Linked DNA regions of Homo sapiens. The protein of the gene in region 1 interacts with the protein of each later gene in a biochemical or structural test. Each region holds a gene or a part of one and is shown in the gene's direction. Other genes may lie near its edges.

Region 1 (3,500 bases):
GTAATCCCAGCTACTCGGCTGGGATTACGGCTATCCAGGTACCCAGGCTGGGGCAGGAGAATCACTGGAACCTCGGGGGTGGAGGTTGCAGTGAACCGAGATCGCGCCACTGCACTCCGGCCTGGGCAATGATGCGAGACTCCATCTAAAAAAAAAAAAAAAAAAAAAAAAGAAAGAAAGTGTCAGTTTGAACCTCTTGAGTGATGGCTCAGAACTTTGGAATGTTGGGATGCAATACTGGCATACTGGAATTCAGGAATGCCAAGATCCTCAAAGGTTGGAAAGGGGGAATCCTAGAGAGTTGAAGATGCTGTCAGAATGTTAGAATCATAAGATGCTGGAATGCTAATACTGCAATCTAAGAAAGCTGAAATGTTGGATTCCTAGAAAGTTGAAATGGAGAGTTAGAATGTTGTAAATTTAGAGTGATCATCTGACCTTATTCCTCCCTTGCTTAAAATATTTTGGTCCTGTCTCTGGGCTTTGTTACCGGCTGTTTCCCTGCCAGAAAATCAGCCCTGCTCCCAGGCTCCTTCACCACCAGATCTTAGCGCCATCAGCCCAGCAACGCTGTCAATGAACAAATTGAGGTCTTTTTTGAGACAGAGTCTCGCTCTGTTGCCCAGGCTGGAGTGCAGTGGCGTGATCTCGGCTCACTGCAACCTCCGCCTCCCAGGTTCAAGTGATTCTCCTGCCTCAGCCTCCTGAGTAGCTGGGATTACAGGCGTGTGCCACCACACCCGGCTAATTTTTGGTTTTTTTAGTAGACACTGGGTTTCACCATGTTGGTCAGGCTGGTCTCGAACTCCTGACCTCGTGATCCACCCGCCTCGGCCTCCCAAAGTGCTGGGATTACAGGCATGAACCACTGCGCCCGGCCACAAATTGAGGTCTTGAGTGCCAACAGCTCCTGACATTACAAAGGGAGATAGCCAGCCATGTCAGCCTCCGTAGGGAGGGACCCAATGTTGCCTAGGAAGTCTTGGCAAAAAATCAAACCTGAAGGCCAGGTGCGGTGGCTCATGCCTGTAATCCCAGCACTTTGGGAGGCCAAGGCAGGCAGATCGCTTGAGCTTAGGAGTTCAAGACCAGCTTGTGCAACATGTTAAAACCCTGCCTCTGTACAAGAAATACAAAAAAACTAGCTGGCTGGGTGGTGTGTGCCTGTAGTCCCAGCTACTTGGGAGGCTGAGGCAGGAGTGCTTGAGCCTAGGAGGTTGTGGCTGCAGTCAGCCAGGATCACGCCACTGCATTTCAGGACAGAGCAGGACCTTGTCTCAGGAAAAAAAAAAAAAAATCAAACCTGAATCTGATCAGGACTGTAGATCCTAACAGTTTTCTAGAAAGACAGGAACAGAGGAAATGGTCAGCAAAACTCAGACTGCAAGAAACCTCACCCAGTTTCTTCATCAAATACAATGCAAAGAAGGGGAAAGCACACACACACACACACGTACCCCCCATGCAACCAAAAATTCACATACAAGTTTTGACTCCCCAAAAACTTAACTATTAATAGCCTACTGTGGACTGGAATTCTGCTTTATCCACAACATAAACAGTTGATTAATACTTTTTTTTTTTTTTGGAGACAGAGTCTCTGTCATTCAGGCTGGAGTGCAGTGGTGCGGTCTCGGCTCACTGCAGCTTCTGCCTCCCGGGTTCAAGTGATTCTCTTGCTTCAGCCTCCCGAGTAGCTGGGACCACAGGTGCCCACCGCCACGCCCAGCTAATTTTTTGTATTTTAGTAGAGATGGGGTTTCACCGTATTGCCCAGGCTGGTCTTGAACTCCTGAGGTCAGGCAATCCGCCCACCTCAGCCTCCCAAAGTGCTAGGATTACAGGCATGAGCCACTGCTCCCGGCCGAATAATACATATTTTGCATGTTTTATGTATTATGTCCTATATCCCCTTTTTTTTTTTTTGAGACGGAGTTTCGCTGTTGTCACTCAGGCTGGAGTGTAATGGCACAATCTCAGCTCACGGCAACCTCCACCTCCCGGGGGTTCAAGCAATTCTCCTGCTTCAGCCTCCTGAGTAGTTGGGATTATAGGCACCTGCCACCATGCCCGGCTAACTTTTGTATTTTTAGTAGAGGTGGGGTTTCACCATGTTGGCCAGGCTGGTCTTGAACTCCTGACCTCAAGTGATCTACCCGCCTCAGCCTCCCAAAGTGCTGGGATTGCAGGGGTGAGCCACGCACCCGGCCGTATTCTTTGTTTTTTTTTTTGAGACAGAGTCTAGCTGTGTCACCCAGGCTGGAGTGCAGTGAAGTGATCTCAGCTCACTGCAACCTCCGCCTCCCAGGTTCAAGCAATTCTCCTGCCTCAGTCTCCCAAATAGCTGTGATTTCAGGCATCCGCCATCGCACCCGGGTAATTTTTGTATTTTTAGTAGAGACGGGGTTTCACCATGTTGGCCAGGCTGGTCTTGAACTCCTGACCTCAGGTGATCCATCAGCCTCGGCCTCCCAAAGTGCTGGCCTTACAGGCTTGAACCACTGCTCCCGGCCTATGCCTGCATTTTAAAAATAAGATAGAGAAAAGAAAATGTCCTTAAGAAAATCATAAGGAAGAGGAAGTATATTTTCCATTCATTGAGTGGAAGTGGCTTATCATAAAGGTCTTCATGTTGAGTAGGCTGAGGAGGAGGAAGAAAAGGTGTTGGTCTTGCTGTCTCAGGGCAGAGGTGGAAGAAAAATTCACCTGTAAGTGGTGAATTTTGTAAGAGGACCCATGTAGTTCAAACCCATGTCCAAGGGTCAGTCTATATATAGTTGACCCTGAATATATATACAGAGAGAGAGAGAGATGATTTTGTAGATTTTGAAAAAAGTCCTAAGAGAGGCCAGGTATGGTAGCTCACACCCGTAATCCCAGCACTTTGGGAGGCTGAGGCAGGTGGATCACTTGAGGTCAGGAGTTGGAGACCAGCCTGGCCAACATGGTGAAACCCTGTCTGTACTAAAAATACAAAAATCAGGCCAGCTGTCGTGGCTCACACCTGTAATCCCAGCACTTTGGGAGGCCAAGGTGGGTGGACCACCTGAGGTCAGGAGTTCGAGACCAGTCTGGCCAACGTGGTGAAACCTCCTCTCTACTAAAAATTCAAAAATGAGCCAGGCGTGGTGGCGGGCCCTGTAATCCCAGCTACTCTTGAGGCTGAGGCAGGAGAACTGCTTGAACCCAGGAAGTGGAGGTTGCAGTGAGCCGAGGTCGCGCCATTGCACTCCAGCCTGGGCAACAAGAGTGAGACTCCCGTCTCAAAAAAATAAATAAATAATTAAAAATACAAAAATTAGCAGGGTATGGTGGCAGGCGCCTGTAGTCTTAGCTACTTGGGAGACTGAGGCAGGAGAATCACTTGAACCTGGGAGGCACAGGTTGCAGTGACCCGAGATTGCACCACTTCACTGCATCCTGGGTGACAGAGTGAGACTCCATCTCAAAAATTAAAAAAAAAAAAAAATCCTAAGAGACATATCAACCAATTGCAATGT
Region 2 (3,500 bases), on another chromosome or scaffold:
AAAGGGAAGCTTCCTCCTCCCATTGCCCGATCACACCTTCCCAGACCACAGGAAATGTAAACCTGCACAGACACCCTGAGTTTCCTCATCATAGATCATTCATGAAGCTGTGAAAGTTGCCTTCTGACCAGCTTGATCAGTGGGAGTAAGCAGTGGAGTCTTTGGGATCTAACACACATGTGCTGCTGCCTTCAGGCAGTGAAAGCCACAAAGGTCTTGGAGAACCTGTCAGTTAGGGCCAAGCTCTGTCCCCTACTCGCCATGACACCTTATGGATCTGGCTGTTAATACAAAATTCCCTCTGATTGCACCCAGACCTGGACCACTTTGGCCTCTTTCCTGCCTAGTTTGACATTTCTCTAAGTCATTAACTTGACTGCCAATGGCTTGGAGAGAGTCTTCATATGAGAAGAATCAATGGACTGGCATTTCATGGGTCCAGAGATTGTTCCTGAACTTAGATATTGCTGTTCCCAATCATAATTAGTTGAAGAGACAGAGTGTTCCACTTGGGAGCAGGAGAGATGCTATTTTCACAAAGAGAAATGAAGGAAGCTATAATATTTAGTGATGGCTCGGGTTATCATGCCATGCAGATCTTTCACAGAACTTGAGAGTTAGAAGAAGCAATTAAGGGCATTCTTACAGCTGATTGACAAGAACAGACACACACACAGGTACATCACACTCAGAATATCACACTCAGAAGCACAGAGAAGGACACACTTAAACTCAAAACATGCCAGACACGCACACACACACCACATACAGAGACTCACATGCCACACAGAGACACATCCTACATGCAGACACATTCAGATACCCACATTTCCATGCAAGCACCAAAGCCCTCTTCACTAGGTAGATGCCCCAGCCATCTACTCCCTCACATGCTTCCAGGGCCCAACCCAGCCAGGACTCAGGAGCAACTTCAGACACATGAAGGACTTTTCTTGGCAGCTCTGAGGCCACCTAATGTGGCCAATGCCAGTCTAGTCTGTGGATTTCTCTTTCTGACACTATAGAACCCGCAGATGAAGAAATACTGGGTTGGCTTCAAATGGATATTTGGTCATTTAAGACTTCACTTGTGTCATTTTTACATAGAGATTTCTCTCCTCTATGGCAGATACTAAATCTCTGGATTCCAAGTTTTTGAGATCATACCCAGATGAAAAAGCACAGCCTTTCTTGCTCTGTCCTCTCTCTCAATCACTCCCACATTACAGAGCCCTTAGAGGAAGAATGGTTCCTCTTCTACAGAAAAACACATCATAGTGCTGAGCCAGGAGACTTGGACAGGAACAGAAAGTAATGTAAAGAAAGTGACTGTTCAAAAGCTGAGCGAATGGTAAAGGTACCTGCAGGGCCTGCTGTGTGTGAGCAGTGACTTTGCCCTGCAATTACAGCATAGGAGGTGTGGGGCCCAGGACACTCCTTCCCAGGGGCCACTTAGGACGTTGTAACCATTTTTTAGTGGCCCTTTGATGGCACTCTGCCTCAGGCATCACTGACACCTGCTATTAGATTTGATTCCCAAGAACCTATGCCACATTCCCCTCAACACATCTCCATCTCCTCCAGCAGTAACTCACTTTTACAGGCTCCCTTCTGAAAGCTATAAGGCCCTTTGGGAAAGTAGCTCTTCTCTAGGACATTCTCACAACCAGGCATCTAAGAAAGCTTGATCATGACTGACAGACACAAAATCCCCTCTTCCCAGACACTCTGGCAGTGTCTAACAGGAGAAAACAGGTTTCATTTTCTACTTTTTGATGATTATCAGAGTCTTACATGCTGCTGTCTTCAAAGGGAGACTGCCTCCTCCTAGGTCAGCAGCTGCCTGTTGGTGAGAGGTCTGATATCTCAAAGAGACTGTTATGAACCAATGAAATGCTCCCCAGCCCAGCTGGCATTTCTTACATCAAAATTGTTCAAAAACCAAATTGAATTAGAATTTGAATAAGGCCAAAATCTGACTTTCACCATAACCAGTGATGTAGTCACTGTTTCTTAGGTGAAAGCGTAACAGAATGAAGAAAGAAAGACCCAGGTAGAAAGAGCCTTCCATGCTCTTGGAATTTGGAATCTAATCCATTCCTAATTTCATCTGGGTGTGATCTCAATCCCTGTGGCTCCTGATGGCCAGGGCTGACACTTGAGCCAGCCTTCTTATCTCCTTTACCCTGGCACCACAGCCCACACAGCCCCAGCTGCTGTGCACAAGCAAGTGCCTGTCTCAGCCCATCTCCTCTGAAGAGTCTCCAAACTTACATTGATAAGCCCCAAGAACAGATCTCATGACATACATCTTTTCTGCCTTTCCACAACCCTACAGTTAGATAGAGGAAAAGTTTTGTTACCTCAAATGCTGAAATCTGAAACTTTTTGAGCACCAACATGATGCCATAAGTGGAAAATTTCACACCTGAATTCATGTGATGGGTAGCATTCAAAACACAGTCAAAACTTTGTTTCATGCACAAAATGATTTAAACTATTGTATAAAATTACCTTCAGGCTATATGTGTAAGGTATATAGGAAACAGGGATGAATTTCATGTTTACATTTGGATCCCATCCCCAAGATATCTCATTATACATATTTAAACTTTCCAAAATCTGAAATCTGAAACACTTCTGGTCCCAAGCATTTCAGATAAGGGATAATCAACCTGTATAGAGCTGGGGAAAGAGGCACAGAGAGATATTATGTCTTTGTAACTGACTGGCTGAAGAGAGGCTCAATAAATTAGGTTGGTTCATGGTCCATGATTAGGACCTCACAGGCAGACCCCCCAGGCATTCCAGGCTATTTCTGGGGCAGGCACCAGAATTCTGTGTTCCTGTGGATTCTACATACAACTCTGGCCTGGGGAGGCCCAACTGGACCCTCATGAGTTGAGAAAGCACATGGGCTGGACCTTCCCCCAGCTGCAGGCCTTATTCTAGTCCTACTGAAGTGTGTGTACACAGCACTGCCTTTTGAGAGCTGCCTGGACTGTGGTTGCCAGGTTCATGGTGCCCACTTGGGCCATGTGGCACTGGGTCTGTAGCTAGTGCTGGACGTTTCCCCTCCCTACACTCATTCCATCATCAGGCCCTGATGACACTGGAGTCTTTGAGGGTTGCTGTCATTTACCCAGCACATGCAATATTTGAACTCAAGAAAGCCCTGTGCTACTAACAATGGCCCCCAGCCAAACTTATTTAATTATTTTCCATTAATTAATCAAGACTTCACAAGGTAAACAGGGAAGTTTCGTCAGGGAAAATTGTATAGTGAATAAAGGACATCAGAGACCTGTTCCTAGGAATTAGGACAAGAATGATAAGTACGTACTAAGCAAAGGCCTAATAGTTGTTTCATGCACACCTTCATTATACAACATTAGAGTGGAACACCTGTGACACATGGCAAGCAGGAGAGGAGAGTTGTTAGCTACATCTTCCCCTTCTATCTAGAAATTTGGATAGATGTTTCTTCCAGAATCCCTTGC
Region 3 (3,500 bases), on another chromosome or scaffold:
AATTTTGTCTTACAAAGTCAGCACTTATTGGTTATTCATTGTTGCGTGTTCTCAAAGGCCCTGAGTCAACTGTCTCTACTCAGTTAAATACTATTTGGACTTGTCCCTTATGGTTTCAAGCACAATTATTACAATATTTGGGGCTTACAAAAATTTTATTTATAACTAGCTTTTAATTTAACTAGATATTGTAAAAATTGGAAATTTGGAATATTCATTTCTTTGTCCTGTTGTAGGTGGCGCTCGTGTTTCCGAATAGTGACCCTGTGATGTTCATGGTTGCATTTTATGGGTGTCTCCTGGCAGAGCTGGTTCCTGTCCCCATAGAAGTGCCATTAACAAGAAAGGTAGCAAACCCATGGCTCAGGTCCCGTGTGGTTCGCTTCTGAACTTGATACCAGCAGTATCTTACTTCCTTTTCACTCATGTGGGCAGGCAGCAAGCAGCTGTTTTGACAGAGGAGAGAAAGCTAGTAGTCAACAGGCTGGCCAGGACTCAAGAGAAATCAGATGCCGTTTTGCCTGCCTCTCTTCTTGTTAATGAGAGGGGCACTGAGAACCGTTTTGCTGGTGATGCTCCCACACCACACTCTTATTAGGTGGAGCTGTTCTATCATCTACATGAATTTCCCAACAGAAATGATAGCCATTTTTTCCTCTAATGAATAGAATTATGATTCAATAAGATTTTGTTCAACTTTTCCTCAAAACCATATGTTTATAGAAAATAATTATTATTTCTTAGGGATAAATATATCATTACAGTGATATAGCTCACTTCTCAGTGGCAGTTTTGAATAAACGAGATGGAAATTATCTTGCATTTCTGTTCACTTATATGACCGTAGGCAGTTTCTGTTGCTGATAAATTATTAATGTGGGGTCTTGCTGATCTAGGTATCTGTAACATTTTTGATATAACTATCAATAATATGATTACTGAAAAAAAATAGACAAGGCATGAATTTGAGAAAATCAGTTTTCTGTCATCCTGTCCCAGAATTCAGGCAGTTGTTAACAGGAGCATTATCCAGAAATATTCAAGAATCCCAAAAGTAAAATTTGCAAATCAAACTAGTGTATCTCAAAGCATAATATGTGATGGGCAGGTATTTGAATGCAGTGGTTCTTAGGAGTAAAACTAGAGATTTGTCAAATTTATATGAAGAAAATGACAGAATACTGCTGAGGGACACAGAAGACTTGGCTACAAGGAAATGTGTTTCTGTGTGGAAATAATTTAATATCGTTGGTGACCAGGCCTCTCTAGATTAATTTGTAAATTTCAAACATGATTCAATAGAAATTTCAATGCCATTAACTTTGGAGTTTATTAAAAATGCTTCTAAATGTCATTTGTAAGAATAAACTTTGAGAAATTAGCCCATTAAACTTTATATTTCAACACAAATACAAACCAAAATTATCTTTTAAATTTAAACATAGTTGTCACATTTTCATGAACTATTTCCGTGAAAAGATCATATATATCAATAATGGGACTGAATTATTCTGGAAGTTTTATGAGGGATGAAAAAAAGATCTGTTCTCTGTGCATGGCCTGGAGCACCAAGGGTCTGGGGCTGTGGCTGCTGTGAGCACCCCACCCCACACGGTCACTCTGCTTTCTGCAGGATGCAGGCAGCCAGCAGGTTGGGTTTCTGCTGGGCAGCTGTGGAGTCTTCTTGGCCCTGACCACAGACGCTTGTCAGAAAGGCCTCCCCAAGGCACAGACAGGAGAGGTGGCAGCTTTCAAAGGTGAGGCCTCCCAAGGGAAGGGGAGTCAGTGTTCTGACTGTGGTCTGTGTTAAATGCATGGTGTTCCAGAAATTAAACATGACAGAGGTGTCTGGGTCTTCAGCAAAAGTGATCCCTTGTTCGAGTCCTTGGTGAATCTCGGTTTTCATCTGGCTTCATGTCTCGACCTGTACTGTCTAATGTGGTAGCCACTGGCCGGATGTACCTTTTTAAATTATATAAAATGAAATGAGACTAAAACTTGCACTCCTTATTCGCTCAGTAGCTAGTGCTGCATGTTGGAGGCGCAGGCTTCGAGTGTGGGGAGCAGATGCCTCTGACTGCTTGCTGTTCTGTGTCCTGTCTGTGTGTCACAGGTTGGCCCCCGCTCTCCTGGCTAGTGATTGATGGGAAGCATCTAGCCAAGCCCCCAAAGGACTGGCACCCTCTGGCCCAGGACACAGGGACTGGGACTGCCTACATTGAGGTAATGACTGTTCCTAACTTAGAGAATGTAAAAACATGTCCCACAGGCTTAAGTCTTGCTTTTCATAAGAATGTAAGTTGCTATTCTTTTTTGTTAAGTTTCGGCCTAAGAGTTCTTGTTTTATCTCTGCCCTGGAAATACAGAGTGTCATATAAATCCTTGCTCAGATCCTTCCAGGTTTCTCTCTCATCTAATTCTCTCCTAACTGGCTCCCTGGGGATGCAGACAGTTATGAGGGAGCCCATGGCGCACCATTACCCTCGGGCACCTGCCCAAGAGGAGCCACAACTTCCACTGAAGCATCCCCTCAGCGGCCAGGGTTTTGCCATGTACCTGGGCTGCTGGTTAGAGGCCGATGGTTAGAGGAGAGACACTGACCACTTCTTCTTTTGAAGATTCTACCAGTTTCCATTCTGTCTGTTGTCACCTCTAGAAATACCACATCATGTTTTTTTCCTTGAAATCTTTCAGTATAAAACCAGCAAAGAAGGCAGTACGGTGGGGGTCACAGTGTCCCACGCATCCCTGCTGGCACAGTGCCGGGCTCTGACCCAGGCGTGCGGGTACTCAGAAGGTAAGGGCTCTCGGGGGTGGGGCGGTGGCCCCTCCAGCCTCACACAGATACCTGACGTACCTAATCATGTGACTGTCACTGCACCTGTCAAAACCACCCCTGGGTAGTGCCTTTGCCCATTAATCCGGGTCATGCCAGGTAGGGAGATGCACTGTCTTTAGCATGCTTACAGGGTCTCTGTGGTTGTGCTGGCCAAGAGGGCACACGGTGTCTCTTAGCAGAGTCCAGACAACCCCATCAGGGTTGTTTTCAGTAAATGCACATGGATGTTGATTTTATGGAACATGGAACCTATATCCCACTGATTGATTTATACACAGTGCTGGGTTCACAGGCCTGCCCTGGGGGGCTGGCTTACTCTGTGACATACTGAGGGTCAGGGCATTTTTCATTCAAAAAGAGGAAAACACTTTTAGTTTTCTATTACTTTATCTATGACTGTAGTTTTGACCTCAGCTGTCATGGATATAAATATATAAGTAGAATCTTTATGGTTATAGATGATCTGTTGATAAAGTATAGTCAGCACCTGATTTACTTCAAATGTCAGATACTTAACTTGAGATATCTTTAAATTAATATTATTTAATTGATAAGTACTAATTGTATATATTTATGGGGTACACTGTGACAATTTTAAAAACTGTAAAAATGGACTCAGTAGTTTTCTTACATTGTAATACTAGAATTGAACAAAACTACT
Region 4 (4,276 bases), on another chromosome or scaffold:
AATAAGTCTTAAAACCATAATAGTGATGACATATTTTACAATATGTGCATACCACTTATACATATAAAATACAAAACACAAAATTATGCTATATATTATTTACATAAATATGGATTAAAAACATAAACACATCTTGAAGAATACATATCAACTTCCTAATCCCACAACATTGGAAGGGAAATGAGATTGGAGAGAATTACAAAGGAAACTCCAACCATATTTGTCTTGATTTATTTCTTTTTTTGGGTTGGTGGATCTGGTAAAAACTGGAAAAGCTTCTAGACAAATTTTAAAAGAGCACTACCATTGCCATCTTTCATTTCTTAAGAAGAAATGACCTTAAACAAACTTGGCAAGTGTTTAATTTTATTAAAGTTGGGTGCATGTAAGGTACGAGTGTCTTTTATCTTGCTCTCTATATTTGTGAGTATATATATATATAACATTTCATAATTTAAAAGAAATTATTTCATTCTATGATAATGTGACAAAAGAAACAAAGATGTGAAATAAAAACTAATAGGAAGGAATCCACTTTCAGCAGTGTGGCCAGGAATTTGCTCTCCAAAGAAGGGATGATTAGGCTGAAATATGGAGAAAGAGAAAGAAAGTTGATTTAAAAAGTTTCAAGCAATACAGTATGTAAACAGACACCAATGTCTGCAGTCTAAGGATGGCATTAAATCTGCTGGTGGTTTATATGTGATCATCATTGTACTACAAGTTCTATGAGAGCATGGATACTGAATATCCTGTTCAATATTGTATTTTCATCACCAGAATAGCACTTAGCACACAGTATGGCTCAAAAAAAAAATCTCAGATAAAGTCAATGACATGGTTTAAGGGACTCAAACGTTAGAGTGCTCAGACAGTAACAAGGACAGATAGGATCAACTAAGAATCTGATCAGGTCAATGCTGTGAAATAGACAAGTGTGATCTTTGATAACTCCTTTCTAAAATCTCTTTGATCTTTTATCTCTTTTATCTTTCATTGATCCTCTACTCTTGAAATCCTTATTTTATATCACTTTCTTCCAGGACCATGTACTCAATCAACTGCTAAAAAAGAAAACCCAAAAACCCTAAAGTCTATAGTTATAACTCACTCAGTCCCAGAAATGAATCTGCAATGCATGAGCTACTATCATGGTAACATGTCCCTGACATTCTTTGTCAGCATCCTTTGTCACCTGCTTGTAAGGATTTTGAAAGAGATGGAGAAAGGTAGGTTGAAGGTTCCTTATCAGGAGGTTTGCTGTCAAAGCTCATTCTAAATGGAATACAAATTTTATCTTCCAGACATGCCTCAGTACCTATCAGAATTTAGCCTTGAGAAAAATGAGGCAACCACTGAGAGTAATGACCCTTTTAGGGAATCTGTGCTCAATTCTGAACTCTATTCAGAGGCCTTGGGGTGGGGCTTGTTTGTACATAGTGGCCACATAAAGCCTGGTAAACTCAGCTGGTCTCCAGGGCGAGGCTGAGGGCAGAGAGTTGGACACAACCCTGAGATTTATCCCTCACAATGCGGAAAGACAGACTTCTTCATTTATGTCTTGTGCTACTTCTTATCCTGCTTTCTGCCAGTGACTCAAACTCTACAGAACCGTAAGTCTCACTCAAGACCCCTTCCTCCAGAGTGCGTTTCAGTCTCTCCCTTGTGTCTTCGCTTTGCCTTCCTTTGTAAATGCCACCTTTCCACTCATTACAATACCTTCCAAATATAAGAAATTATTCCAGTTAATCCCTTGTTTGTCTTTCATTTATCCTCTATTCTTGAAATCATTTTTTCTACACTGGGCCAATCAGAGTCATAAATACGATTAGTCACTAGGAAGCATGATTAAATAAAACACTAGATCCCAACTTCACAGAACAGTTCTTTTGGATGGAAGGCACTGAATATAGAGATATTCGAAATATATAGTGAAGTGCAACTTAACATGTATTGTAGGCCATATATATATATACAGAAAGTATAGCTCCTTTATTTTTCAATCATGTATCAAGTCTTCACCAACAGCCCCCAGTGGGGGACCAAAGCAGGGAAAATAATTTTAACCCTATCCAGTTGTAAGTTGGTACAACTCAATAATTGTAAGACTTCTTTTCCACCTCTCCCCAGTTCCTCTCCTCTATAGTGTCTAGAGAACTGTGGTCTCCATTAACTCCTAATAGAGAAAACTGTCAGAGTCCTTGGTCTCAAAGTTCTCCGTCCTTCTTGGCTACTGTCAGTCTGACTTCTCCTTACTTGCTGGCATGCACTGTTGAAGTTTAGCCATCTGGTTTCTCTTGTGTGTTCAGGACCCAACAGTCCTCTCTAACTGACTGTCTCACTTCAGCTGTTTCATATCCCATAGAACTCCTACCTTTGCATCCTGCCTCAAATACTATGGCTATTGTTTCAACACAGCCTGTGATGCAGGGTCACCTTGCCCCTTTGCAGTCCAGGCCATTTAAGGTCCCTGGCCTTAACCCAGCTGCCTTTACATTTCTTCCAGAGAATGGTGAGAACTCTTGGGTCCAATAATAGCACATAGGCACTGAGGTGTCCTGGAGAGGTTAAACTTCTACCTCTCTCTTGCATACCCACACTGCACTTCTAGATGCCTATCGTGTCTCCTGTATTCCAGACTGATACAGGGAAGTCTTCAGAGTCCCAAATCGGGAAAGGGATAAGGGGTCCCTCTGCTCTGTGTGTTACCCTTATCCATCTAACACAAATAGCCTTCTTCAGGCCAAAGCGCAGAAAGCAGAAATAAGGAGTTCAATCCAGTAAGTCTCCTGCTTTCCTCAGGCTTTTTCCTTGCACAATTTCCTGGCAACCGGTAGGGGTACATTTCTCCCCCACTATCCCTCTACCTCATCTACAGCAGTGGGCTCTACTACTTCCAGCTGCTCTCCATCCAGAAAGCATATGGGAATATGTGGAGGCTATTTTGCTTTCTGAGAGCAGACTGAATGGATAAAGCGAGTAGCGTGTATTGGGTCAGAAACATTAAGCAATTTGTGGTTCTGGATGCATTCCTACACTACATTGGACCATGCTGCCATTGAAACCATCCTTTTACGTTGTGTCTGCCACTGAACAAAGAACAACAAGCCTCATGCCCTAGTTGTCACAAGCAGAAGGGGTGTTTTCTCCCTTTATAAGGAGAAAACTTAACTTCATCCCTCCAGAATTAACCCTTGATGTGATAAATGTGAGAGACTACAAAAGAGAACCAATAGCCATTCTCCCCTGCCTTGGGGCAGTAAGCTTCAGAAAGATGAAGGTTTCAGGGGAATAAAATGAAAAAGAGAAAATTAAAAGTTATCACTTTAATATTTGCTACATTTAGTCCCTGCTAAAGAGGCAAATATTTAAAATGCAAACATTCATGATTGAGTAAACATATATTAAAACATTTTAGCAGCTCACTACCAATGACATCTTGGGCAAGTTTGTCAACCTGGATTTGTTCTGATTTCAATATCTGTTAAAAAAATATTAACTGAACTCATATAAAATAGTTCTTTAGAATATCAAATATATGTGGAATTAATTTTTAATCGTGATATCTTTTAGGCTTATAATTTATAAGAATAAAAATAGTAAATAAATTATAAATATATATATACCTTCTTATTAAGATCAAAGAACTAAAGGAAAAATTTTTTGATGGGGATGTAAAAAATGATACATTTTTATTATTTATTATGCTGTTAAAAGAGCAGTGATCAGGAGATCAGAAGCATCCAGATACCAGAAAAAGATTAAGACATAAGAGACTAGCTGAATGACTATCAGTGAGTTACTGAACTGCCCTCAGCTTCTCTGCTAGAGAACAAAACCTTACTACTCATACAGTAAAATCATCTGAAACTTGGATGATTTCAGAGTGGCCCTGGAGATTCATGGCATATAGTTTTGCCCAGGAACACTTTAAAACACATGTAGCAAGACTGGTGTGCTGGAGCAGACTACATGGAGGATGAGGGGACCAAATTTGAGTTCCACATTCCACAACTCAATTATCCTTGGATTCTCTCCTCCTAGTCTCACACCTATTAATTTTGTAAAGCAACAATATTGGGTTTCTTGTGTCAAATTGCCTGTCCAGAAAACAATTTAAAAAGTAAGAGTTTATGTTGGCAATGGAAAGTAAGGGTAGTAAAATAATATAAGAAAATAATAGTTTTTACTTGCAAATTTACTCTATAAATGGCCTAACCCTGCAGATATTGAATCATGAATCACTGAATCATTAAAGCTTTGAAGAGTTACATTT
Region 5 (2,577 bases), on another chromosome or scaffold:
AGGAGGATCCCTTCGTGAGACACCACACTAAGCTCCTCTTAGTGAGTGGTCAAATTCTGAGCGAGGAAGAAAAAGCCCTTGGAAATGGAAACAAATGCCCCAGCACAGACAAGATCCCAGCAGAGGCAGAGGCCTTCTCCAGGTCATTTAGGAAGTCAGGGATGCAACCAAGACCAGGACCCAGATTTCCTGCCTCCCCGGCTGGAAGCTCTTTCTCCTTCAGTACAGGACGGCAGGTGGTTTGTATGGAAGCTCAGTTATTAGACAACAGTCATCAAGTGCCGATAATGTGCCAGGCACTGTGCTACAGGGAGAGATAAGACAATTCACAGCTCTGTGACTTTGGGCAAGTCACTGCTTCTCTACTCTTCGAGCCTCAGTTTCCCCATCTGTAATATGGGGACTATAGCTGGAATTACACTTGACTTCCCTTTCTTACCAGTCACATCCAAACAGTTGACAAGGTGAACAAGATTTCCTGCCACCAAAATCTTTTTCGAGTCTGTCATTTTTTTTGCCATCTTCTTTATAAACACCCCAGCCCAAACCATACTGGCTGTCCAGGACCTTTAACAAATTCCATGAGATTAGAGAGGGGGTAGGAGTGAAGGGCAATGGTCTTGGGAGTGACCCCAGATGAATTCCAAGGTCAAAGAAATTAAGAGGATCTGACACTCCACCCCCGTGTTCTCATCTCTTCCCACTCCTCCTGTTATTTACTCTGCTCCACCCACACTGGCTGCTCTTTGAACAGATCAAGGTCATTCCTAGCTTACAGCCTTTGTGCCAGTTGTTCCCTCTGTCTGGAAAGCTTCCCCTCCAGATTGTCACTGGGCCATCCCACTGTCTTCCTTCAGGTTTCAGTGCTAAGGCCATTGCTTCAATGAGGCCTTCTTTGATGCTTATTATCTATTTACTTGTTTTTATTTTCTCCATAGCTTTCTATATTTTCTTTTTTTTTCTTTTTTCTTTTTTTTTTTTTTTGAGATGGAGTCTTGCTCTGTCGCCCAGGCTGGAGTGCAGTGGCACGATCTCAGCTCACTGCAACCTCCGCCTCCCGGGTTCAAGCGATTCTCCTGCCTCAGCCTCCCAAGTAGCTGGGATTACAGGTGCCTGCCACCACGCTTGGCTAATTTTTTGTATTTTTTAGTAGAGACGGGGTTTCACCATCTTGGCCAGGCTGGTCTTGAACTCCTGACCTCGTGATCCACCCGCCTCAGCCTCCCAAAGTGCTGGGATTACAGGCATGAGCCACCGCACCCAGCCGCTTTCTATATTTTCAAAACCAATCTCATTTATTTATGTGTTTGCTTAATTGTCTCTTGCCTCACTAGAGTGTAAGCACCAAGATAATTGAGATCATGCCTGCATTTTTTCTGCTTATCCCCAGTATCTTGAACAAAGCACATAGTAGATGCTCAGTAAATGATGAATGAACAGATTTGTTCAATGAATGAGCGTTGAATGAATTGTTCTGAGCATTAAGATAGTTGGTCTATTCATTTGTTAATTCATTCACAAAATGTGTATGGTGTACCTACTGTGTGCTAGGCTCTGTGGCAGTGCTTTGGGCACTGAGGTCTGTGCCCTCCAGCATCTCACAGAACCTCACAGCATCTCACAGGTTGGGGGGATGGAGGTGATATGTGAAAACCTTAGAAAGTTCTAGAAATGGCAGAAGAGATGGTTGTCAAGATCTTGTTCCTATTTCTGTATATGTGGGAGAATTAGAATCACTCCTCTTATGCCTGCCTGTCTCCTGCAGAGAAAGCCTATTTCTGCCAGGACCGCTTCTACTGGCGCGTGAGTTCCCGGAGTGAGTTGAACCAGGTGGACCAAGTGGGCTACGTGACCTATGACATCCTGCAGTGCCCTGAGGACTAGGGCTCCCGTCCTGCTTTGGCAGTGCCATGTAAATCCCCACTGGGACCAACCCTGGGGAAGGAGCCAGTTTGCCGGATACAAACTGGTATTCTGTTCTGGAGGAAAGGGAGGAGTGGAGGTGGGCTGGGCCCTCTCTTCTCACCTTTGTTTTTTGTTGGAGTGTTTCTAATAAACTTGGATTCTCTAACCTTTAGAAGCAGACTTTATTTATATATGTATGCACGTATGTATGCATGTATGTATTTAACTGATAGAGTGCAAAAAAAAAAAAAAAAAGGAAAAACAAATAACTGATAGAGTGCTTTCTACGTGCCAGAAAGTGTTCTAGGCCGGGCACGGTAGCTCACTCCTAGCACTTTGGGAGGCCGAGGCAGGCGGATCACGAGGTCAGGAGATTGAGACCACCCTGGCTAACACGATGAAACCCTGTCTCTACTAAAAAAAAAATAGAAAAAATTAGCCGGGCGTGGTGGCGGGCGCCTGTAGTCCCAGCTACTTGGGAGGCTGAGGCAGGAGAATGGCTTGAACCTGGGAGGTGGAGCTTGCAGTGAGCCGAGATCACGCCACTGCACTCCAGCCTGGGAGGTGGAGCTTGCAGTGAGCCGAGATCACGCCACTGCACTCCAGCCTGGGTGACTGAGCAAGACTCCGTCTCAAAAAAAAAAAAAATAGTGTTCTAGGCACTTTGTAAAT
Region 6 (4,198 bases), 1.5 Mb from region 1:
ATCAACTCTTTCTGGCACTGCTCCCTAAATGCCCACCCCTGCTCCATCTGTCCTGTTCTCTGGGGCATCCCAGGCCAAGCCTAGCGCTGACACAGAACAGCGGCTGCCTGAGGGCCCACAGCCTCCCCGGGAATCAGCCAGGCACCCTGTGACCTGCCTGCCCGCTGCACCCTGGGGGCTCAGAGCGCGTGTGATGGTCACACACAGGCACCATCCGGGATGTGGCCACCTAACACCAGCTGTCCCTTGGGAAGACAGACCTCTCCTGTGTGCTTGCGGGAAGAAGGGGAATGTTATTGCTCTTTGATCTCAGAACACAACTCACCCCCACCCGCCCTCTCAGGTGAGAGCAATGTCCCTCCAGACAGGCTCTCTGGCCACTGCCTGTTCCTCCTCTACACACAGCAGCTTGGCCAGGTCAAAACCATCAGGACAGACCCCTGGGTATGTCAGCATATGGAGGGCTGAGCCCATCATGGCCACGGAGTAAGTTGGGATGAATCTCTCCAGCTCTGAACCCCTGCTCTGTCCCAGGCTCCCCCTCCCGCATCTCAATGAGCCATGTCCCGCAGGGTTCCTGGGTAACTCCCCACTTCCTCCTGCACCACCACAGGGAAGGTGTGGTGACCACAGGACAGTCAGCTGGGCAGAGAAGAGAGGACATCAAAGATGGTCAGGAAGAACATGAGAAACTATGAGCTCCAGCTCAGCCGCCAGACCCCAGGGAGCCATAGACTGACAGAGAACTGTCCCTTTGACTATGGGACTCACAGCCCCCACTGAGCAACCAGCACAGGCCTCTCCTCCCAAGAGGCATGAGAGATTCACCCTGCACACCGCCAGAAAGGACAGTTTCCTCTGGGACACCCAGGTCCTGAATGTCCATCCTTGGAAGCTGCAGCCAAGCTAGACATGATTAGAGAAAGGAAGGGTCCCTCTCACCAGGCAACACACAGCTCACCCACAGCACAATGGGGCATCATTCTGACAGGGACCTGGTACAGCTCCAGCCTCCTGCACTGAAGGGGAGAGCCTGATGGGGATGAAAGAGGCCAAAGGGCGTTAATTTGCACCCCGACCCAGAGCCATGGGGACACCAGGAGGCTGAGGCCCAGGACTGTTCTTGCCCAACCTGCAGGGTATGTGTCTGACTGTGTGGGTCTGTGTGTATCTCTTCTGTGTGTGTGTGTGTGTGTGTGTGTGTGTGTGTCTGTGTGTCTGCACAAAGTGTGTCTTGAGGTTTGGTGAAAGAATCACTGCTGAAAAAGGCAGAGGCCGCCACAATTCCCAGGGACCTGAAACACAGACAAAAGGAGAAACAGAAGGAGGGACAAGGAGGCAGGACTTAGAGAGGAGGGGACAGAGAGGTGTCCTGGGCCTGACCCTGCCCATGAGCTTGAGAATTGCTCCTGCCCTGGGAAGAGGCTCAGCACAGAAAGAGGAAGGACAGCACAGCTGACAGCCGTGCTCAGAGAGTTTCTGGATCCTAGGCTTATCTCCACAGAGGAGAACACACAAGCAGCAGAGACCATGGGAACCCTCTCAGCCCCTCCCTGCACACAGCGCATCAAATGGAAGGGGCTCCTGCTCACAGGTGAGGAGAGAACTTCCTGGGAGAGGACAGGAGGAGGAAGCAGAGTGACTGGATGGGGTCTCCTGGAGAGGATGGGGTTCTAAAAAATGAAAGAAGCCAGCACTTTGGGAGTCTGAGGTGGGTGGATCATGAGATCAGAAGTTCAAGATCAGTCTGGCCAACACAGTGAAGCCCTGTCTGTACTGAAAATACAAAAATTTAACCAGGTATGGTGGTGTGCTCCTATAATCCTAGCTACTCGGGAGGCTGAGGCAGGAGAATCACGTGAACCCGGGAGGCAGAAGTTGCAGATAGCTGAGATAGCACCACCGCATGCCAGCCTGGGCGACAGTACAAGACTCCATCTCAAAAAAAAAAAAAGAAAAAAGAAAAAAAGGAAAGAAGGCTCTGTTGGAGCCTGGATAGGGGAAAATACACCAGAGAGGGACAGGGGTCAAAACAGGAAAGTCGTATTGGACCGGAATTGGTAAGAGGTAGGAAAATCTTAAGTGTTCTGTTTTCCTGATTAATCATCAGGGGCCACCATATTTTGAAAAATGATAATAATAACTATAGCAGATGACACCTCAAATAAAAATATAAACAGGGCAGGAAACACTGTCCTCAGCAAGAAACCTCAACAATTGGGGGAAAAAAAACACCCAGGGCATGGAGGGCCCTGAGAACTCTCACATCTACAGGAGTCTGCAGCCTGTTCCAGGCACTGGGGTGCAACCAAGATCACAAAAGTCCCTGTCTTCACGGAGCTCACGCTGTCATGGGGGGGAAGACAGACATGCAAAGAGATCTAGAATGTGAGGTCAGGTGTTGACAAGAACCCTGGAGGGAGCAGAGCAGGGAAAGGTCAGAAAGGGAAGACCCAGGGTCTCTGAAGCAGGCATCAGGAAAGAAGTCTAACGATGCCCTGATGTAAGCAGGACCTGAGGGCATTGTGGAGGGGGCCATGCGGACCCCTGGGGAAGAGGATTCCAAACAGAAAAATGCCAACGTCAGAAGTGTTGAAGGAATGGGCGTCATGCTGCTGACCTTGACCTAGTAGGACAGTAGGACACACACACATACACACACACAATCACACATGCCGCTTTTGTGTGTGTGTGTGTGTGTGTGTTTGTATGTGTGTGTGTGTCTGTGTTGTCAAGGCTGAGGACTGAAGAGACCTTCTCAGGACCCAGGGCCCCATGTTTTCACACCAATACATAGGTCTCAATATTGACTGATGTTCTCTCCACCTCCTAGCATCACTTTTAAACTTCTGGAACCTGCCCACCACTGCCCAAGTCACGATTGAAGCCGAGCCAACCAAAGTTTCCGAGGGGAAGGATGTTCTTCTACTTGTCCACAATTTGCCCCAGAATCTTACCGGCTACATCTGGTACAAAGGGCAAATGAGGGACCTCTACCATTACATTACATCATATGTAGTAGACGGTGAAATAATTATATATGGGCCTGCATATAGTGGACGAGAAACAGCATATTCCAATGCATCCCTGCTGATCCAGAATGTCACCCGGGAGGACGCAGGATCCTACACCTTACACATCATAAAGGGAGATGATGGGACTAGAGGAGTAACTGGACGTTTCACCTTCACCTTACACCGTAAGTGATTCCACATGATCCCTGGGTGTTGGGGGACAGGGGTCACTTCTACTTCACACACACAGGATTGTCAGGCCTGGACTCTGCCTGTGTCACTCACTGCGTTATGTCCCATGCTGGGATTTGGGCATTTAGTGCAGGACACACACAGAGGAGACAAATTTCAACAGATCAGAATTCCTTTCCTGCATCCAGACCCTGCAGACACTCGCTGCAGAGGAAGGACAGTCTGATGGGGGGACTCAGCAGGAGGAGATCAGTCTCAGCCAAGCACCTCATGCCCTCTTCATAAATTTGACCCTGAGAAAGACCCTGGATAACTGAGTAGGGCTTGGCCTGAGGGGCCCCCTGAGATACTCTCAGAGAAGCTCAGCCCTAGAAGCCTCAACCCCAGACCCTTGTCCCTAAATCCTTGTTCCAGATAAAGCTGAGGAGCCTGTGCTGGGACTGGGTTGTGGCTTCTTGGGCAGGGCTTACTGGGACCAAGGATTTACCAGCTGTCAGAGGACTGTGTCTCCTGGAGCTGTTCACCAGCCAGGGCTCAGCCCTCAGAGCCTCATCTGGGCCAGGACAGAGCTTTCTTCACCTGATACTCAGAGTGGAGAGGACAGAAAGACAAGCTTTGTAGGCCATCACCCAACTGCCTTAGGAGGCTTAGGATAGTCCATAGAAAGACTAATGTCCCCAGAAGCAGAAACAGAAGAGAGAAGATGTACCAGGTAGCAGCTTGTCCACAGGGATCTGACGTAAAGGTGCTTTCTCATGGAAGCAAATTAATAATAAATGCTGTTTGTGTGAAACCTCCACTGTGCCAAGCATTAGGTCAGGTGACTGTGAATAATTTAACATTTATTCACAGATAGCATGAAAAGCCACAGTCCATTTGCCATTTAGCTTATTTGATTGAGAGAAAACTGAGGCACAGGAAGGCACAGTGACTGAGCAAGAGTCACACAAACACAAAGGGGAGATCAGGGTCACATGAGGTCTGTCTGTAGC
Region 7 (3,500 bases), on another chromosome or scaffold:
AAGGGCAGCTCCACAGCATGTATATTAAGAACACGGGTTCTAGGATCTCTGGATCCCAATCCCACTGCTTAGCTGTGCACCCTTGAACACAACTTACCCTCTCTGAGGCTCTTTCCTCATTTGCAACTTGGAGATAATAATAGTTCTTGATAAGTTTATCTTGAGCATTTTATTTAGATACTGCATGTAAAGCAGTTAGCACTGAGTTTTGGTTTATGGTAAGCACCCTGTAAATGTTAGGATATTAACAGCAACCCATAAAAACAGCGAACTTATCCGTTCTCTGGTAGAAAACATTCCATGTTGACATTTGGGCATGTGGCCAGGAGCCAATTTCTACCGTACACTGGGTTTAGTTGCCATTGACCATTTCCTGGAAATACTTCTGCGTGCTCCTGATGGGAGCCTCTATTTGGCTGTCTCTAAGCCAAAACCATTTGTGACCATCAACTCTGTACTTTAGTTAAACAGGATGGTGGCTGGAGCCACTGGTCCCCGTGGTCATCTTGTTCTGTGACATGTGGTGATGGTGTGATCACAAGGATCCGGCTCTGCAACTCTCCCAGCCCCCAGATGAACGGGAAACCCTGTGAAGGCGAAGCGCGGGAGACCAAAGCCTGCAAGAAAGACGCCTGCCCCAGTAAGTGTGAGGTCCGCTGCAAGGGTGAGCATGGGCAGCAGCTCTGCCCAGCTGGTTGCCTGGCATCTGCAGCCTGCAGTTCAGTGGGTCATAGAGCAGGAAGGTTACCTACTAGAGAAACAAACAGAAGCAAAGTCCTGCAGGCTCAGCAACTTCTTTTAATGAAAAACAAACTCACCCTCTTCCCCAGCATTCTTTCCATGTGTCAGAGAAGCAGAGGTTTCTTGAACGGGCTTAGGAGAGTCTATGACAAGGGAGGGATTTGAAAGTTGATCTTAATTGTTGCCTGTGGTTCATCTTCTTACAGTCAATGGAGGCTGGGGTCCTTGGTCACCATGGGACATCTGTTCTGTCACCTGTGGAGGAGGGGTACAGAAACGTAGTCGTCTCTGCAACAACCCCACACCCCAGTTTGGAGGCAAGGACTGCGTTGGTGATGTAACAGAAAACCAGATCTGCAACAAGCAGGACTGTCCAATTGGTGAGCCACGCAGCCCAGGATGAAACGACCCAGGAGCTTTGCTCTTTTACTGAATGCTGCAGTCAGCATTCGAGGAGATTCCAGCTTGGTTAGTCCTGAGCGATTTGATTGCTCTAAGATGCAGGTGGACAACATAATCCCAACAAGTTATCGGTTCCCTATACCCTATAATATCTTACACTGTGTTAAGTGCCCAGCATGGCAGTATGGCAGCTTAGACCAACCATTTACTGTGACTGTCTCTCTCTCCTTGTCTCAGATGGATGCCTGTCCAATCCCTGCTTTGCCGGCGTGAAGTGTACTAGCTACCCTGATGGCAGCTGGAAATGTGGTGCTTGTCCCCCTGGTTACAGTGGAAATGGCATCCAGTGCACAGATGTTGATGAGGTGAGGAACTGATGGGGCTCCGAGTTTCTGGATCTAGGAAAGCAGCTAACCTGTGCAGTCGCTTCCTTATGGCAGTGACTTCTAAACATGATGCACGCTCTTATTTCCTCCATAGTGCAAAGAAGTGCCTGATGCCTGCTTCAACCACAATGGAGAGCACCGGTGTGAGAACACGGACCCCGGCTACAACTGCCTGCCCTGCCCCCCACGCTTCACCGGCTCACAGCCCTTCGGCCAGGGTGTCGAACATGCCACGGCCAACAAACAGGTACAGTCAACTAGACGAGTAAACCAGAGGACAGGAGAGCTGTCCTTGACCAAAATAACTGGGAGCGGGAGGAATGTAATTTCATACCCTTCACCAAAAAAAAAAGGGCGAGGAGATGAATGTACGGTCTAGTTTTAGAAACGTGATTAGAAAATCCATGGTAAATCCTGCAGGGGAAAAACAGTCTTCCATATTTAAAAATGCTGCTCTGGAATAAGTTGTGAGCAGATGGACTTGTAAACGCCTAGGTGCTGAGCAAATTCAAGAAAAATAAACATAAAGCAAAGTTTGCTTATAGCCTCAGGGAGAATGGGGAGGGACAGAGGTAACCCACACTCTTCCAAATGGAGCCTCTGTCTACTCAGAGATGACAGGGATCTGGATTCTTGTTTCCATGATATCTGAGGATTCTCAAAAGCTCTGTGTAACAGCAGCATGGTGTACCCTCAGGTGTGCAAGCCCCGTAACCCCTGCACGGATGGGACCCACGACTGCAACAAGAACGCCAAGTGCAACTACCTGGGCCACTATAGCGACCCCATGTACCGCTGCGAGTGCAAGCCTGGCTACGCTGGCAATGGCATCATCTGCGGGGAGGACACAGACCTGGATGGCTGGCCCAATGAGAACCTGGTGTGCGTGGCCAATGCGACTTACCACTGCAAAAAGGTAGAGCCAGGTCCTTTGTGTGCCTCCAGAAAGAGGGCCCATCACCTTATCAAAACACAGGCTAAGGAATTTTAAATACTTAAAGTTTGGACATGAAACTGAAAGATTAAATCTCCCAAAGGGAGAGGGGCACTAATTCCTATTAAAATTAAATCACTTGGTGCCAAAAACATGAACAGGGCTAGCTCTTTTTGGGCAACTGTGTTCCATAGTCAACTCTTCTGTCCAAAAAAAAGTTCAGTACTCTATCCAAATACCAGCAAAGCATGACTTGTGTTCACAACATCTATAAAGCCTAGAGCATTTACACAAATTCTGTATGTATATCCCCCAAGAAAAGTTTTATTTTCTTGTCTTCCCATAAAAAAAATATGCTGTTACTGAGCCAAATTCTGTTCTTTTTCTATTTGGAATTCCAGGTACACTCCCTCGTGCATGAGCTCAGCATGAGGAAGGCAACTGAAGCAGTGATATATATCTTCTCTTTCCTAGGATAATTGCCCCAACCTTCCCAACTCAGGGCAGGAAGACTATGACAAGGATGGAATTGGTGATGCCTGTGATGATGACGATGACAATGATAAAATTCCAGATGACAGGGTAAAAACAGTTTTCTATCCCTTTTTCATCTTTTCAGTTCAGCAACAGCCTGAAACACTTTGGGATTCAAGGAAATTACATGGCTATAGCAAAAAATATACCAAATCAATACACAGGATAATTAGAAATTATTCATTGTGTTCCAGTAGTTTAAGGATGTAGATGTTGCCAAGAGAATTTTTAAATGAGGGTTTTGTTTTTCATCAGAACTGTTTTTCTCTGTACTTGAGAAATTATAATGCATAAACAAATGCCACTTTGTTCCCTAGATTCATTTCAAATGTCACATCGAAATTACAGTAAAATTGACTTTGGGCACACTATGAACTGAGATGATGGGATTATATTCTACATCTCACTAACTTCTAACCCACAGGGATCCATTTTTTTAACTATGTCCTTTTAACTTTTGTAGTGATCGTTTTACACTGAGTGATCAATTAGCCTATCCACTA

What was found.
Region 2: the proteins of TGFB1 (region 1) and FSTL1 interact in a biophysical measurement, tested with the Homo sapiens proteins (one study listed by IntAct).
Region 3: the proteins of TGFB1 (region 1) and DIP2A interact in a biophysical measurement, tested with the Homo sapiens proteins (one study listed by IntAct).
Region 4: the proteins of TGFB1 (region 1) and PZP form a complex in vitro, tested with the Homo sapiens proteins (one study listed by BioGRID).
Region 5: of the proteins of TGFB1 (region 1) and MMP9, one has a biochemical effect on the other in vitro, tested with the Homo sapiens proteins (one study listed by BioGRID).
Region 6: the proteins of TGFB1 (region 1) and PSG1 form a complex in vitro, tested with the Homo sapiens proteins (one study listed by IntAct).
Region 7: the proteins of TGFB1 (region 1) and THBS1 form a complex in vitro, tested with the Homo sapiens proteins (one study listed by IntAct).

Annotation. Positions count from the first base shown.
Region 1 is NC_000019.10:41,336,923-41,340,422, reverse strand, and holds part of TGFB1 (transforming growth factor beta-1 proprotein preproprotein), read left to right. Parts: intron 1-3,500. UniProt on the Homo sapiens protein: Transforming growth factor beta-1 proprotein: Precursor of the Latency-associated peptide (LAP) and Transforming growth factor beta-1 (TGF-beta-1) chains, which constitute the regulatory and active subunit of TGF-beta-1, respectively.
Region 2 is NC_000003.12:120,405,993-120,409,492, reverse strand, and holds part of FSTL1 (follistatin-related protein 1 precursor), read left to right. Parts: intron 1-3,500.
Region 3 is NC_000021.9:46,531,891-46,535,390, forward strand, and holds part of DIP2A (disco-interacting protein 2 homolog A), read left to right. Parts: intron 1-236; coding exon 237-347; intron 348-1,633; coding exon 1,634-1,757; intron 1,758-2,113; coding exon 2,114-2,223; intron 2,224-2,694; coding exon 2,695-2,797; intron 2,798-3,500. UniProt on the Homo sapiens protein: Catalyzes the de novo synthesis of acetyl-CoA in vitro. Promotes acetylation of CTTN, possibly by providing the acetyl donor, ensuring correct dendritic spine morphology and synaptic transmission.
Region 4 is NC_000012.12:9,205,596-9,209,871, reverse strand, and holds the start of PZP (pregnancy zone protein precursor), read left to right. Parts: upstream 1-1,476; 5' UTR 1,477-1,530; coding exon 1,531-1,613; intron 1,614-4,276. UniProt on the Homo sapiens protein: Is able to inhibit all four classes of proteinases by a unique 'trapping' mechanism. This protein has a peptide stretch, called the 'bait region' which contains specific cleavage sites for different proteinases.
Region 5 is NC_000020.11:46,014,485-46,017,061, forward strand, and holds the end of MMP9 (matrix metalloproteinase-9 preproprotein), read left to right. Parts: exon of another isoform or gene 1-304; intron 305-1,765; coding exon 1,766-1,884; 3' UTR 1,885-2,077; downstream 2,078-2,577. UniProt on the Homo sapiens protein: Matrix metalloproteinase that plays an essential role in local proteolysis of the extracellular matrix and in leukocyte migration. Could play a role in bone osteoclastic resorption. Cleaves KiSS1 at a Gly-|-Leu bond.
Region 6 is NC_000019.10:42,876,914-42,881,111, reverse strand, and holds the start of PSG1 (pregnancy-specific beta-1-glycoprotein 1 isoform 2 precursor), read left to right. Parts: upstream 1-1,398; 5' UTR 1,399-1,530; coding exon 1,531-1,594; intron 1,595-2,833; coding exon 2,834-3,199; intron 3,200-4,198.
Region 7 is NC_000015.10:39,587,579-39,591,078, forward strand, and holds part of THBS1 (thrombospondin-1 precursor), read left to right. Parts: intron 1-463; coding exon 464-640; intron 641-947; coding exon 948-1,121; intron 1,122-1,380; coding exon 1,381-1,508; intron 1,509-1,623; coding exon 1,624-1,776; intron 1,777-2,226; coding exon 2,227-2,445; intron 2,446-2,937; coding exon 2,938-3,045; intron 3,046-3,500. UniProt on the Homo sapiens protein: Adhesive glycoprotein that mediates cell-to-cell and cell-to-matrix interactions.